Linked DNA regions of Homo sapiens. The protein of the gene in region 1 purifies or fractionates together with the protein of each later gene. This does not show direct contact. Each region holds a gene or a part of one and is shown in the gene's direction. Other genes may lie near its edges.

Region 1 (4,484 bases):
ATTTCATTTTGTTACATTCTCAAGGAACAGTGTGTTCCCAGTAGCATCTATCAAGTGAACCCTGGAGGCTGGTCACATTCATAATCTTTTGTTTTTCTGGCTACATAGAGGTGATTTTGAACTACAAGATCATCTCAGCTATTCAGAGTTTAGATTTTATTTAGCCTTATTTGTTTTGCCTAGCATTTATGTATTTGAAAATATCTTGATTTTTAATCTTCTATCACCTTGGCCCTTACCTGAAGTGAACTTTGTTTGAACTCAATTGATTTCACCTCTCAATAAATATGAAATTAATCTGAAATGAATTGAATTGTTTGGCATATTTTACCTCTTCTATGTGCACTAATCTATTTCACACATTTTCAGTTTGTTTAGAGATACATGTTCCAATGTATCTGAGTAGAAACTAGTGAGATGGGAATGGATATAGCCATAATATTCCATCATTGAATTCCATGGCATTCACTCAAATGTAACTCACCTGTTTTAACAGTACCTTAATTTGGCCTGTATTTATTGGACTTGGTGTTCTTTTTGCTGTGAGAAGACGGTGAAGGTGATTCTTGAATGTTTGTTTTCTGTGTTGCATCATGTTTGTACAACACGGTAATATATTTGGACCTTGATTAAATAATGTAAGAGGGGAATTTGATCAAAAAATAAAATGCACAAGACTGTTAAAACAATGTCTAATTCTATCCATGCAAAAATGGAGTAGAATCCTAAAATGCTTATGACAACTACTTGATTGCTTCTAGTCCCTCTTTTAAATACTTTAATTTACTTAGATACATGTATCATACGTACTTCTTGGCCTCAGTTTTCCTCCTAATAGCCTAATTGTTCTTTTTACTGTGCAGGCATAACTATATAACAAAGTAGGTTTTTTTTTTCATGCCATTTATGAGTCATATAATTTAGATAATTTATTGTTTATTTTACCATTATTGTTGCTAACAAACTTCGTTGTTTTGCATTGTTTGTTGGGACAATTAAATAGTGTACCTCTTGGACTAATAGATTAAATAGTTCATCAGAGATAAATTGCACTGCTGAAGCATCAAAGGAGAAAGACTGAAGTGTAGAATCTGCACTTCAATCTTTCTCCTTAATTAGCACCACCAGGGAATTTGATTCAAGTTCTAGAGGGGAGTGAACCCAGGAATTGGCTTAAAAACAAAAACATACACACAAAAAAACCAACGCTCGCAAGCAATTATTTATGCATGCGGTCCACGCACTCAGTTTGAGAAACACTGACTCGACTTAAAAGTCTTTATAATGCTCAGATTTCTGAAATGCTATTGACCTGAAAACATCTCATGAAGTTATTAGTTTGAACGCGTGGTGGCGGTACAAGCTAAGAGAGTGAATGAAAGCTCTGCAGACTCGGTGGACTCCGTTTCATCCAGAAGCCAAGTAAAAATACAGACCACGTTTACAGCTAAAGCTGAGATAGATGTGTCCGGGAAGGCAGTCGTCGCCAGACAAGTTGTAAGAACGAATTTAAAAATCTCTGCAAAGACATCCGAGAGGGTCGACGGTAGATGTGGTGATTGGGAGCTGAAAAGGATTTTTCTTCCGTATTCAGACATAATAGACATGATGCAAACTAAAGTACAGAACAAGAAAAGGCAAGTGGCTTTCTTCATTTTATTGATGCTTTGGGGAGAGGTGGGTTCTGAATCGATTCAGTATTCCGTATTGGAGGAGACAGAAAGTGGCACGTTTGTGGCCAACTTGACAAAGGACCTGGGACTGAGGGTGGGGGAGCTGGCTTCGCGGGGCGCTCGGGTTGTTTTCAAAGGGAACAGACAACATTTGCAGTTTGATCCACAGACCCATGATTTACTGCTAAATGAAAAACTGGACCGGGAGGAGCTGTGTGGCTCCACTGAGCCGTGTGTGCTACCTTTCCAAGTGTTACTGGAAAACCCCTTGCAGTTTTTTCAGGCTTCCTTGCGAGTCAGAGATATAAATGACCACGCCCCGGAATTCCCTGCCAGAGAAATGCTCCTGAAAATATCAGAAATTACTATGCCAGGAAAGATATTTCCTTTGAAAATGGCACACGATTTAGACACCGGCAGCAACGGCCTTCAGAGGTACACAATCAGCTCCAACCCTCACTTCCACGTTCTCACCCGCAATCGCAGCGAAGGCAGGAAGTTCCCGGAGCTGGTGCTAGACAAACCGTTGGACCGCGAGGAGCAGCCCCAACTCAGGCTAACGCTGATCGCGCTGGATGGCGGGTCTCCGCCCCGGTCAGGGACCTCCGAGATTCAGATCCAGGTTTTGGACATCAATGACAACGTCCCCGAGTTTGCTCAGGAGCTCTATGAAGCACAAGTCCCTGAGAACAACCCCCTCGGCTCTCTGGTTATTACCGTCTCAGCCAGAGATTTAGATGCAGGATCGTTTGGGAAGGTATCTTACGCCCTGTTTCAAGTCGATGACGTCAACCAACCCTTCGAAATAAACGCAATCACAGGAGAAATTCGGCTGAGAAAGGCTTTGGATTTTGAGGAAATTCAGTCTTATGACGTGGATGTTGAGGCTACAGATGGTGGAGGCCTATCAGGAAAATGCTCTTTAGTCGTCAGGGTCCTGGACGTGAATGACAATGCCCCTGAACTCACCATGTCGTTCTTCATCAGCCTCATCCCAGAAAACTTACCAGAGATCACAGTGGCAGTTTTCAGTGTTTCAGATGCAGACTCTGGACATAACCAACAGGTTATTTGTTCAATAGAGAACAATCTCCCCTTTCTACTAAGACCTTCCGTGGAGAATTTCTACACCCTGGTAACAGAAGGCGCGCTGGACAGAGAGAGCAGAGCCGAGTACAACATCACTATCACGGTCACTGATTTGGGGACACCAAGGCTGAAAACCCAGCAGAGCATAACTGTGCAGGTCTCCGACGTCAATGACAACGCCCCCGCCTTCACCCAAACCTCCTACACCCTGTTCGTCCGCGAGAACAACAGCCCCGCCCTGCACATCGGCAGCGTCAGCGCCACAGACAGAGACTCAGGCATCAACGCCCAGGTCACCTACTCGCTGCTGCCGCCCCAGGACCCGCACCTGCCCCTCTCTTCCCTGGTCTCCATCAACGCGGACAACGGCCACCTGTTTGCCCTCAGGTCGCTGGACTACGAGGCCCTGCAGTCTTTCGAGTTCCGCGTGGGCGCCACAGACCGCGGCTCCCCGGCGTTGAGCAGCGAGGCGCTGGTGCGCTTGCTGGTGCTGGACGCCAACGACAACTCGCCCTTCGTGTTGTACCCGCTGCAGAACGGCTCCGCGCCCTGCACCGAGCTGGTGCCCCGGGCGGCCGAGCCGGGCTACCTGGTGACCAAGGTGGTGGCGGTGGACGGCGACTCGGGCCAGAACGCCTGGCTGTCGTACCAGCTGCTCAAGGCCACGGAGCTCGGTCTGTTCGGCGTGTGGGCGCACAATGGCGAGGTGCGCACCGCCAGGCTGCTGAGCGAGCGAGACGCAGCCAAGCACAGGCTGGTGGTGCTTGTCAAGGACAATGGCGAGCCTCCGCGCTCGGCCACCGCCACGCTGCACGTGCTCCTGGTGGACGGCTTCTCCCAGCCCTACCTGCCTCTCCCTGAGGCGGCCCCGGCCCAAGCCCAGGCCGACTCTCTCACCGTCTACCTGGTGGTGGCGTTGGCCTCGGTGTCGTCGCTCTTCCTCTTTTCGGTGCTCCTGTTCGTGGCGGTGCGGCTGTGCAGGAGGAGCAGGGCGGCCTCGGTGGGTCGCTACTCGGTGCCCGAGGGTCCCTTTCCAGGGCATCTGGTGGATGTGAGCGGCACCGGGACCCTATCCCAGAGCTACCAGTACAAGGTGTGTCTGACGGGAGGCTCAGAAACAAATGAGTTCAAGTTCCTGAAGCCGATTATGCCCAACTTCCCTCCTCAGGGCACTGAGAGAGAAATGGAAGAAACCCCCACCTCTCGGAATAGCTTCCCGTTCAGTTAAGTGTGGGATTATTTTACTAAATCTTACTTATGTTTGGAGATCTCTTTTAACTTAAAGTTACATGGTCTGTTTCTTGTTTATTTTACCTCTATTCTTTAGGTTGAAATTTTATATAAAGTAAGATACTGGTATCTTAGTATTTCCTGTTCATGCTTAGTAGTTTATTACTTCACTTGAGGGTACTTGACAATATGAACAAAAAGTAAATTTTTATTTGCATAATTTTAAGCTTTTGAAATTAAATTATCTATTCTTCCCCCCCCCAAAAAAAAGTATTGTAAATCCTTAAGTAAAATTGTATTTCTAGCTATTGGTAAGAGTTGTTTCACTATTGCTATGTAGGACTGTTTAAAATGTGAGTATCTGATATTATTTAATCCTCCAATGTCTCATTTTGCAGTAACTCCTACAGTGTGTAACACTAAAAATAAGAACTAATGATGGCTAAACACTAAAGTAGCCATTCATACTTATGCATATTTTAGTATCCCATA
Region 2 (3,777 bases), on another chromosome or scaffold:
GAAGCCAGAGCTCATGCTTTTACTCCCAGGTAGCAGCAGCTTTACAATTAAATTTTAATCCGACAGTGTTGTTAGACTCCTATCAAGAGTACAGCCACAGCTGTTCTTGGCAGGCAAATACATTGCTGGTTTTCCTTCAGTCACAGTGAGATAGAAAAATGTTCTCTGTCTAGGGTGTGGACGAAGGCACTTTACTAATCTTATGCATAATTCATCCTTGGTTGCTGGGGCACTCAAAGTTGAAACTTTGCCCTCTGATAAAATTCAGCTGGATGTTTTTTATTTATTAGACTCTGATCCCTTTAGGGGTTTAGCCCTTATTGCGAGCCCAGGGATTCTAATTTGGCTAAGCCCTAGCTGTGAAGACTTTTCTTACTAATTTGCCCTTGGTGAATTTTAGCTCTTGTAATACCACCTTTAAAAAACAAAAAACAAAAACTGCAGTAGAACATGCAGTTCAGAGAGTCCTGGATAACCTGAAAAGAGTCTTCTTTGAATGTTGGCTTATTGAATGGAAGGACTCCAATAGGGCCTGTCTTGATTTGTTTTCAAAGTTTAGATTTGTAAAGAGCCTCAGCAAATTAAAACATGGTTTTAATTGTCCTATAACATGCTAAAATATGGTAATGATTGTCCTATAACATATAACAGGTCTTTGCATTTCAAATTCATTGGGTACCTGTGAAGTATAAAATATAATCCCTGTTCATAAGTAACTCATAGTCTAGTGGTAGGGGGTTTGAGATGGGCATGAAGATGTATTAGTATAAGGTGGAAGCTATTGCCACAATAGATGAGTTCATCCTTGAATATTCATTTATTTGACTGGAAGGGAATGGTGAGTTATTTTCACACGGCTCCCGTAAGATATAGTGACCCAAAAGGTCAGTCTAGACTAATAGATTATGCTTCCTTTCAGAAGAATTTATTCGGTTAGGTCAAGCAAGAACATATAGAAAGAGATATCTTTATTCTTTTCCAAATATGTGATGTGGAGTACTTTCATCTTTATACTCAGCAGCTGGAATTCATCTTTTTGTAAGCAGTGTTATTTATTATAATGTTTATATGAATATAATTTATCAAAAAATGGAGAGCTCCACAATTCAAAATTTAAGAAATGTCTCACCTCAGATTCACAGAGTAATTGCCTTAGACAAAAGCTCTACACTCATACATTTTATATACCTCTTTTATATCCTCTCATTCCTAATAATGACAGATTAATAAGAACTAATAGCCATCCTGGTTTTCAGTATGAAACAATGTGATTTCATGTGAAGAAGAATAGAATAGTAAGAGTTAGGACCAAAATTACTTAGTTCTTTGGGCATGTGAGAGAATAGGAAAGAGCTACCCAGAATTTTCCAGAGCTCACTTGATAATGTCAAGAGCTGCAGCTGGCAGTCACTGATTCTGAAAATAGGCACACATCATGTTAATCAAAAAACTAAATAAAAGGATATTGGGATAAGGCACTAAAATAAAGTTCCTTTTGCCCTTTCTTTATAGCTGGGTTTTGCTGATCAATTCTGCATTTTTTGGCAATTCTACCTCTTTACAGGGAGAACCACCAGTATTATTTTCTCTTTAAGTAACTGAAAAAATATTTCCTATCTTTATTGAGCTGTCTCATTAAAGTAACAGACTAGCTGGATCACTGGGGATATGACTTTGGGATATATGTTTTAAAATAGGCACAGAGGCTGGGTGCGGTGGCTCACTCCTGTAATCCCAACACTTTGGGAGGCCGAGGTGGGTAGATCATCTGAGGTCAGGAGTTTGAGACCAGCCTGGCCAACATGGTGAAACCTTGTCTCTACTAAAAACACAAAAATTAGCCTGATGTGGTGGCAGGCGCCTGTAATCCCAGCTACTCAGGAGGCTGAGGCAGGAGAATTGCTTGAACCTGGGAGGCGAAGGTTGCAGTGAGCCAAGATCACGCCACTGCACTCCAGCCCTAGTGACAGAGCGAGAATCCATCTCAAAAAACAAACAAAAAGGCACAGAACCTCTCCTTGAGTTTATACAAATTAGGCATGTAATCAGTAAATATGGTAAAATATGGTAAAATGTAATCAGTAAATATGGTAAAATGGTAGAAGAGCAGGCCCAAGGCTAAATTCTAAACTACTCATGCAAATATTATAATAATACTAGAGAGTTGTAGAATGTACTGATTAAACTAGTGTTGCAGTAGAAGAAAGGAAGATAAACTATTTGAACAACAACTTGGAGGCAGAAAACTGGGGATTCGGCTTTGGAATTTACTTTATTGGTAATTATTACTTCTCTAGCTTGTCGCTCACTTCTCTGAGCTTGTCACACCTACTGGAATAAGCAGAAATTGTTATTCTTTGCCTAGGTTAACAAAATACACATCTCCAGATAGTAAGTTAGTTGCATGATGGCATCTTCTAATTCAGAGGTCTGATTTGTAGCATATTGGTAAGGAGGCACATTCATATTTCTGGGTGGTAGGGAGCCCACTTTCATCCATTCATCTGCATTCCTGTTCAAACTAGCAACTGTGTCTGCTAACATTAGGTTCCCAGAAAAAAGATGTAAGTAAACCCCAGTTCCACTGAGCTCCTGTGAAGGTACCACCTCCATAGAACTTGGTTGAAAATAATGAGCATAGTTACCTTTTTTTTTTTTTTTTTTTTTAACTTTTATCTTTTGGATGGCATTGAGAGTAACCTTCTGTTTTTTTGGCCTCAAGTTCCATATTGAATTTTTTAAAATTGCATTTTGAGCAATAACATTTCCCTGGTTGCTTAACCAGTTATACAAGTTGAGACTTCTGTCTCTATGCCTATCTTATAATAGCTTCTCTGGGAGAACAGATGAAAAATAAGCCAGTTAGATATTTTATGAGTATTGAAATCCTTTCCATTCAGAAATGTAAATAAAACAACCAGCATGAGCAATCAGCTTATGTCAGATTCCATGGGTTTGTATTACATAGGGAAATTACAGTGCAACCTGAAACATGCTTCTTAATGAATTCATAGTGCTGTCACAGTTGAATGTAAACCCTTGAGCTTTTCTTTTGTGAAGGGTTTCAGAAATCACCCTTTATAAACTACCTAGGGGAGGGAAGAGAACTAAGATGATACTAACAAATGCTATCACTGGTTTTGTGGCTGCCTCCCTTACAGCACCAAATTTTGCCAGTTAAGTAAAGCAGAAACCTAGAATATGGCACACGTTTTGGCTTATTCAGTGTACACACACACACAAACACACAAACACACACACACTCAGTGCCACACTGGGTCAGACCCATAGTTCAATACTCTGTTTCTGAAAGTGGCACCAGGGAACTGCTTTGGAAGAATAAGATTGCCCTTATGGTTTTTATCCTCAGAAGTTAGGGAAGTTTGGTTAAGAAGTATGACAAAAGCCCCATAAGTAGCGATTTTTACCTTTAGCAAATGCAGGAAAATAGACACCTAACTAGAGATCATGAAGTTAGAATTTGTCTCCTTCTTTGGCTGCTACTTCAGCCCCTGGTAGTAAATTAGAATAAAGTTCCTCATTTATTAGTGAGCTGGTTTTGCAGTCTCTAAAGCTCTTTTGCAGCTCTTCTATTCACTATGGCCTCAGATACGATAAATCTGCTAGCTGCAAAAATTCAATATACCAAGTAGAATATGTAGGACCAGTCAAGTTTTAAGTTTGGGAGTGAGGAAAAGCAGCATGTATTTTCTATTTTAAATTATTTTCTTTTCACATTCTAATTTCTTAAGGGTTTGGCTTGATTTATGCCAGGTT
Region 3 (3,777 bases), on another chromosome or scaffold:
CAAAGTTAAGATTTACCTGCAGTTTTAATGATGATTCTGCAGGTATTTTGTATGTTTGTATTTCTTTTCCTTCATTACTGTATAATTTCACTGCAAAATCTTTAAAAGACAATAAAACTCATTGTCTCCTGAAGAAAAGCTGCAGAAATAAATTACCTAATGTAGTTTTTCATGTTTGGACTTGATGTTGATTTTCTTGAGTCAGAAGCATGGACCATTCCTTGTCTTAACATCCTATATGACTTAACTGAGCTATGGGAGTGTGCTATCACTAGTCCAGAGGAAAGGTACCTTTGAGATGGTTTTGGCTGTGATGTAAAGTTTGTAAGGACTTTGAAAGAGTTTCCAGAGATAGAAGTTGTTATAATCACTACAAATAACTAGTTCTAGATTGGTGGCAAGATTTTGTCTTGAGGCTAACATCTAGATACTGAGAATAGCAAAAATGTGTGTGAGTTGTGAAAATATATTTTTAAAATATATAGTGAAAATACATGTGTATGTGTATATATTAAATGTATACTTTTAGTAGTCTTTTGAATTATAAAGCAGCCCATTATGACTGGCAAATAAGACCTTTTTTAAAAAAGCATTATATATCATGTAATATAATTTCATTGTGAAGTGGGTTTTTGGAAGGCATTTATTATAAATGAGAAGCTATAGTTTATGTATCTAGTAAATATAAATTCGAATAAGTTTTCAAGAATGTTTCAATTTATGACAATTTAAATTTCATTGTCACATGTTTTATTAATTGGCAATTAAATGGCAGGGTAACGTTTGACAGCCTTTATTAGGACTTTAAAAATTTTTTGCCAGTGTACTATAGTTTCATGCACAAATTTTTGTTTTAAGCTGTATTTGTGACATAGGTGCAAAACACAGTACAAAAGTATTTACAAAGCATATGAGAAAAGTGCATAGGACTAAAGACCACAAGAAAACAGATAAGAATCTAATAGTTTTCTAAGGGTAGCCAAATTGACTAGGAGTGTTATTTACTTTTTCTTAACCAAACTATTTTTAACCTACTTATTACTCGATAATGTTAAAATGTTTTTGAAAGTGATTTTCTTAAGAGTGAGATGTGTTAACCCTTTGTATGGGGTAGAGTGGGTACCTTTTAATTTAGGGCCTTGTAAATAGAATGTTATTTAATAAGTGCTTCACTAATGAACGTTTGTAGCCTGCTTTTACTAAAGGCTGTTGCCTGATGGAGCATTGGAGTTTTGTAGTTGGAAAAAGTGTGTCCTTTTTTCCTCTTGCTAATGACCATTTTCCTCCTCCTTCTAATTCTTACAGTGGACCCTCATAGACATCTGCCAACAAGATTGCTTTGGGAGTAGATGTAAACTCATCTAATTGTTACTATCCAGAGTAGCAATAAGCCAAATTACTCTTGGAGGAAAATAAAATCTTTGCTAGGTGCTTGATATTTTAGGTGTTCTCTCTCTTGCCTATATGTGACTCAAGCGCTCTGATTGGCCTTGCCAGACCAAGAGGCCCTTTTCCTACAGCTGAATTTTCCCCTACGGTCTCTTGTAAGCAGCATCTGGCATTGTTTCGGTGACTCTGTACTTCTCGGTTCTGGTTGTGCCCTAGCTGACAGTTGCTGCTCTCCAATTGCCTGTTGGTTGTCTTCCTCCCTGTGTGTGTCTAGCTGCTGGTGCACACTGCATGTGTCCAGGGCAGAATTATCTTGCGCCACCTCCAGTTTTCAGTTTTTTATTAATGCTATGATTATTCTGCCTGCCCCACTGGATTCAGTTTTGACCCTTCACCAAGTGGCATCAGTGCCTGTTACATCCTCTTTTGATCACTCTCCCACTGCCTTCACCATGGGGCACTGCAGCAGCCTCTCTCCTACCGCCTTTCGCCATTTCTGTTCAGTCCTGCATGCTCCCTCTGAATTTGTGGTCTTTGTTAATCATTCATCATTCATTTTGACACCTAATTGTGTACTGCCTTGTTAGCTACTTAAATGATTTCAGGGGTGTCATTCTTCACCTAGGCTGGAATTTCTGTAGGGCAGAACCTTTGTCAACATCTGTAGTACATAAATAGCAGGCATTCAGTTTTGATTGAAAGTTTGCCTAAACTTTCATTGTAATATAATTTCATTGTGAAGTGGGTTTTTGGAAGGCATTTAATTTATTATAAATGAGAAGCTATAGTTTATGTATCTAGTAAATATAAATTCGAATAAATTTTCAAGAGTGTTTCAACCTATGACAATTTAAATTTCATAGTCACATGTTCTATCAATTGGCAATTAAATGGCAGAGTAACGTTTGACAGCCTTTATTAGGACTTTTAAAATTTTTTGCCAGTGTACTATAGTTTCATGCACAAATTTTTGTTTTAAGCTGTATTTGTGACGTAGGTGCAAAACACAGTACAAAACTATTTACAAAGCATATGAAAAAAGTGCATAGGACTTTTTATACCTGAGAACCTGAGAGTCAGAAGTACAGGTAAAATTCAGTTCTGGTGCAGATGTCATGAGGAAGTCTGCTATAGTAGGACATTGAGTAACACCAGTTTTTTCTTCCCCACATGTTGCTTTTCCTTGTAACTAAAAGGAGTTGTATACACTTATCTAAACCATCACTTTTATAACTTTTTGATTTTAAGATTTTCAGATTCTCATAAAACCCTAATCTAGAGATCATGAAACTGAGGCTTAGAGAGGTTAAGTAATATACCCAGCGTGATAGGGCTGGTAAATAGTGGAGCCAGGATTCCGCCCTAAGACATCTGTCCCTTGAGCCAAACTATGTAACCCCAAATGAGCACTTCAGGAATTAGATTTTGTTATATTGTACCAACTGCAAAAAGAACAGACTTGACAGTTCATGCAAAACCCATGTATTAGTATTCAAGTAAAATGTACTTTTTTTTTTTTTCAATCAGCCACAAGCTTTCATATCACTTTCTGTTGACTTGTTAACAGTTTAAGTAATCACAGGCCATTCTGGATCATGAAGGTTCTTAAAAGGAAACCAGTGAGTGGATAATACAGGGAAATGAATATTTGGTATTCGAAGCTACTGTCTCTTTGTTCTTGATGACTTAGATACCTGGTTGTATTGCTAAGGTTAAGCAATATTGCCTTCTGTAGATACTGCTTAGCTCCAGATTGGTGTGATGAGTTAGTCTAGACTTGTGGAATATTCTCAGAAGCTGGCCCTGGACTAACAGGAGCTGGAGATAATGCAAGGGCTGGTAGTGGCATTTGCCTCGGCAGGCAGAAATCTCTCGCAGACTTCCATTAGAGGTCCAAGGGCTCCAGAAGAAGTTCAAAGGTGCTTTGTTCTTATTAGGGCATTTTGGAATTAGGTGGTCATTAGTTCTCATCTGTAGTTCCAAATCTGTTTTGTTGTTGTTGTTTTTTAATTCCCATGTGATTACTTTTAAAACCACAGATGGAGGGTTTCTAGAAAGCCTTTGCCATTTGCCTGATTGATTTTGTTGCATACAACTCTGCCGTTTTAGGGCAGAGGTTTGATGTTTAAGAGGATCTTTTAGATGGTCAGTCATGATAGAGTATGAAACCTACGTTTTTATTTATTTTCATTTATTTATTTTCTAGAAACTTGGTGAAAAAAACACATAACAAAATACTTAACCATTTTTATATGTACAGTTCAGTGGTGTTAAGTGTATTCACGTTGTTGTGTAGCAGATCTTCAGAACTTCTTCATGTAAAGCTGGAAGTCTATACCCATTAAACAACTTCCTATTTCTCTCCCTACCCTTAATCCCCACCCCCAG
Region 4 (3,777 bases), on another chromosome or scaffold:
TTTTGTCTGTCTCCCCACTGGGCTATAATTGCTTCAACTTCTAAATATTTGTCTTCTTATTTTTGTTTAGAAGGGAAGGGAGTTGAGTGAGTGGGGAGCCCGTAGAGGGGCGGCGGGCCACGATTGTCTGCGGCGCGGCTGGGAGCATTGTGGCTGTGCTGAGGCCGCAGCTGCGGCTGCACCCCGAGGATTAACTCTTTTAACGGAAGCAGTAACGCATTCCTATTAAATTGGGCAGCAATCTCAAAAGTGATTCACTCACTCAAAAGACTGACTTTTTAAAGAATTCCTGTGCAGATATATTTTTGTGTGGTTGCAGGCAAGCACTGTGACTTTTTTCCTTTTAACACTGTAGCATCCTTTATTTTTTAAATGCTAGTTCAGAAATCTTAATTACCACATGATCAAATGTCTGGAAATCTACTTGCTACAAACTTACCGCGCAGATATTTCAGTCTGTACTCTGAACTTCTTTCCTGAGGTCATCATCTCCTTAGCACGTTGGAAGCGGCAGGGAACTGAGGTTGCCACGCTCTGAAGACAAAGTGACCGCACCCCTACCCTGTTCCATAGTCAGCTCCCGTCCCGGCCCCCTCCCTGCGTATCCGCACCTCTGTCCTGTTCCATAGTCAGCTCCCGTCCTGGCCCCCTCCCTGCGTATCCGCACCCCTACCCTGTTCTATAGTCAGCTCCTGTCCTGGCCCCCTCCCTGCATATCCACTGATTGCTTCAGATGTGAAGGGACAGCCAGGCCGGGACAAAAGGGATTCCCACCCAGGGTGCGCGCAGCTTCTGTGGCCGAGGTGGCTGCTGCTTACGGCCCGCCTTCCCTTCACCGCAGGCCTCTCTCCCTCCCTCCTTCCCTCCTTCCCTCCTTCCCTCTTGCGTTTTTCTTTAAAATGTAGTTTATTAGAAGCGCACTCTGTTTGAATTTGGCAGTGTGGAGTTGTGTATAGCATGGAACCTTTTCTTTATGCATCGATGGTCATGTGTCATGAAATGTTTTCTTGGGATGAGTCATCAAGACAATGCAATGACCATGAAAGTCTAATATCACATTATTGGCAGAGTGCCAGTCTTCCGAAGAGTCCATGGGGTCTAATTCCATGCGTTCTATCCTGGAGGAAGACGAGGAAGACGAGGAGCCACCAAGAGTCCTTTTATACCACGGTAAGAAATGATCAGGGGGCGCCGGCAGTCCTAACGGTGCGCTCAGAGGCAGCGGCGGCGGGGCTCCGAGACCGGGCCCCACATTCTCCATGAAAGGTCTCCTGCGAGTTCATTTCTCTCCCACTGAACCGAGACCTGGAAGGGACCTTCAGAAGTGTCACGTTTTCAGTCCTCTATCTTAAGAATAACCTACACAAAGGGACGAGAGACTCCTGGGAAGAGACGGCCCAGCCCTCCCTGTTAGAGCATTACTCCTGTCACTTACCTCAAGCCCTTGTCCTCCTGTCCCCTCGCGGGGAGTGAGGGATGGCCCAGTGAGCCGAGGGGCTGCGTCGCCATTGCTCGGGTGTGGCCACGTACTGTCTCGCGGCTTCCGTTGGTGATGGCGTTTGGGGGGCTGTCCAGGGAGGCAGGGCCTTCAGCCCAAGAGTGAACTGCTCCCGCGCCCCTCCTGTAAGTAGCTGCTTGCACTAGAGGAAAACCTGCCTTTAGGTGCCCCTGAGCATCTACGTGGAAGGGACTAGAAATGAGAGACCCAAAGATCTGAGCCAGCCGCGAACAGAAAGTCGGCTTCGCAAACCAAGTCACAAGAACCAGCCCCACTTGAGACTCGCCCGTGAACCATTCCTCTTAACCAAGTCTTGTTTTTCTTTTCTTTAACCTTCTAGTTTCAGAATAATTATAGATTCACAGGATGTTGCAAAAATAGTAAAGGGAGGTGAGGGGGCTTCTCACCCGGGCTTCCCCACTGGCAGCATCCGTAAGGCGCAGGATGTCCCCGGCCAGGAAGCTGGTGCGTGTGCAGCCTCGGGAGCGCCATTCCACGCACACTTGCGTGCCGGTGGCCTTGTTATGTCGTTCTTTTTTTGTCTACACTGTTTGAGTGCTTTTCCATCATTGAAAGGGCTTCATTACAGTCTCACATTTTCCCTTTTTTTTGCCTAATGCTAATGGTCAGACTTTTTAACAGTTTTCCACATGCTCTTCTGATCCTTTTCCTCTGGGGTGAGCAGTCACCACTCACCAAACCCTGCCCCACCCATTGGGCACCTGTCTGGATGGTCCCAGGACCGCAGGTGCTGTGGGGCACCCATTGGGGACTTCCAGGAAATCATTTCTGCAGGATCCGTTCGCACACACGAAGAGCACAGTGCCCTCGGGAAGGGCCCTTTCCGACCACGCTGCCCCACTGGGGTTGGGTCACCGGGACATACAGAGGCTGGTGCTGCCTGGCTTCTCCTGCCTGCGGTGGGAGCTGGGTTTTGCTCCCGTTTGGTTTTGTTTTCTACCTGTCAGGCTGGGCGTCTTTCTGAGGGTTCCCTGACCGGCCTCTGAATTGATTGTTTGTCCACGTGGGCCTGGAAGTTTCTCTTAAAGACTAAATGCCCCTCACTGGGGAAACGACGCTGTGCCATGTTCACAGCAGACACTCACCCCAGTGGGCCTCCCTTTTTCTCTGGTCACGTTGGTTACTTCATAGGCCTTTAGGTTTTGATCTGTGTTTATGGACCACGGCACTTCCTTCCTTCCACAGTGCGGTCAGACACAGGCTTTGTGTGTCTAACGACAGACTGTTTCCAGTAGTTTTTCTAATACTTTAGTTTTAAAATTTTAAATAATTCACTTGTTTTTTGGCATTGAAAATATTTCATTCATAAATAGTTTCTAGTTATGATTTAAATAATTTTCCCATTTTTGACTGTAGTTTCCCAGAATCCTCTTTAGAATCTCAGTCCTTGTGTTTGGGTCTTCTCCGCGTGCCATTACCTCACCTCTGTTTTGTGCCACACACTCTTTAAAAGTGTCTTCCCGCGGGGTTTAGAGTTAGGAAAGTCGCGCACACATAGGACAGAGCCCCAGCCGCCCCTCGTGGCACCCCTCCCATCCCAAGGGTGCGTTTGTCGCAGCTGGGAACCCAGTGCAGCACCCCACTCAGCTGCTGGTTTCACTGTCTCATCATTGGTGGTTAGACTCAAGTAGTGTGGGGTATGTGAATCTGCCTTTCAGATTCTCCTGATCTTTTAAGCGAATGACACAAAGTCAGGTTTTAACAATATCGTGCTAACTGTGTTTTCTCAGGCTGTTACACCTGGTGCTTGATATGGATTTGACTTGTCTATTCTTTTTTTTTTGTTTTTCTTTTTTCTTTAATTCTAGAACCACGTTCGTTTGAAGTAGGAATGCTAGTCTGGCATAAACATAAAAAATACCCCTTCTGGCCAGCAGTGGTAAGAACAGCTTCCTCCGTCTTCTCAGATGTAGTTACTTAAATTTCATGAATTTTTATTCCATCCATCTTTAGTTCTTGATAATTTGATCAGGATAAATGTTTTCATTGTTTTGTTTTTCCTGGGAAAAGTTGGTGGGTTTTTAGAAAAGACTTCAGGAGATGCCTGTACCTAAATTAAGGCACAATGGTGTTAAGTTGATAGGCCACATTTTCACCAAGCAGGCTTAGAAAGACCTACTCGAAAAAAATATTTGCGGCCGGGTGCAGTGGTTCATGCCTGTAATCCCAGCACTTTGGGAGGCCGAAGTGGGTGGATCACCTGAGGTCGGGAGTTCGAGACCAGCCTGGCCAACATGGTGAAACCCTGACTCTACTAA

What was found.
Region 2: the proteins of PCDHB6 (region 1) and ST7L purify together in Homo sapiens (affinity purification with mass spectrometry; one large-scale study listed by BioGRID and IntAct). This does not show direct contact.
Region 3: the proteins of PCDHB6 (region 1) and TMEM131 purify together in Homo sapiens (affinity purification with mass spectrometry; one large-scale study listed by BioGRID and IntAct). This does not show direct contact.
Region 4: the proteins of PCDHB6 (region 1) and PWWP3A purify together in Homo sapiens (affinity purification with mass spectrometry; one large-scale study listed by BioGRID and IntAct). This does not show direct contact.

What each region holds. Positions count from the first base shown.
Region 1 is NC_000005.10:141,148,653-141,153,136, forward strand, and holds the start of PCDHB6 (protocadherin beta-6 isoform 1 precursor), read left to right. Parts: upstream 1-1,404; 5' UTR 1,405-1,605; coding exon 1,606-3,990; 3' UTR 3,991-4,484. UniProt on the Homo sapiens protein: Calcium-dependent cell-adhesion protein involved in cells self-recognition and non-self discrimination. Thereby, it is involved in the establishment and maintenance of specific neuronal connections in the brain.
Region 2 is NC_000001.11:112,528,642-112,532,418, reverse strand, and holds part of ST7L (suppressor of tumorigenicity 7 protein-like), read left to right. Parts: intron 1-2,253; exon of another isoform or gene 2,254-3,777.
Region 3 is NC_000002.12:97,989,449-97,993,225, reverse strand, and holds part of TMEM131 (transmembrane protein 131 precursor), read left to right. Parts: intron 1-3,777.
Region 4 is NC_000019.10:1,361,182-1,364,958, forward strand, and holds part of PWWP3A (PWWP domain-containing DNA repair factor 3A), read left to right. Parts: intron 1-1,068; coding exon 1,069-1,170; intron 1,171-3,327; coding exon 3,328-3,398; intron 3,399-3,777. UniProt on the Homo sapiens protein: Involved in the DNA damage response pathway by contributing to the maintenance of chromatin architecture.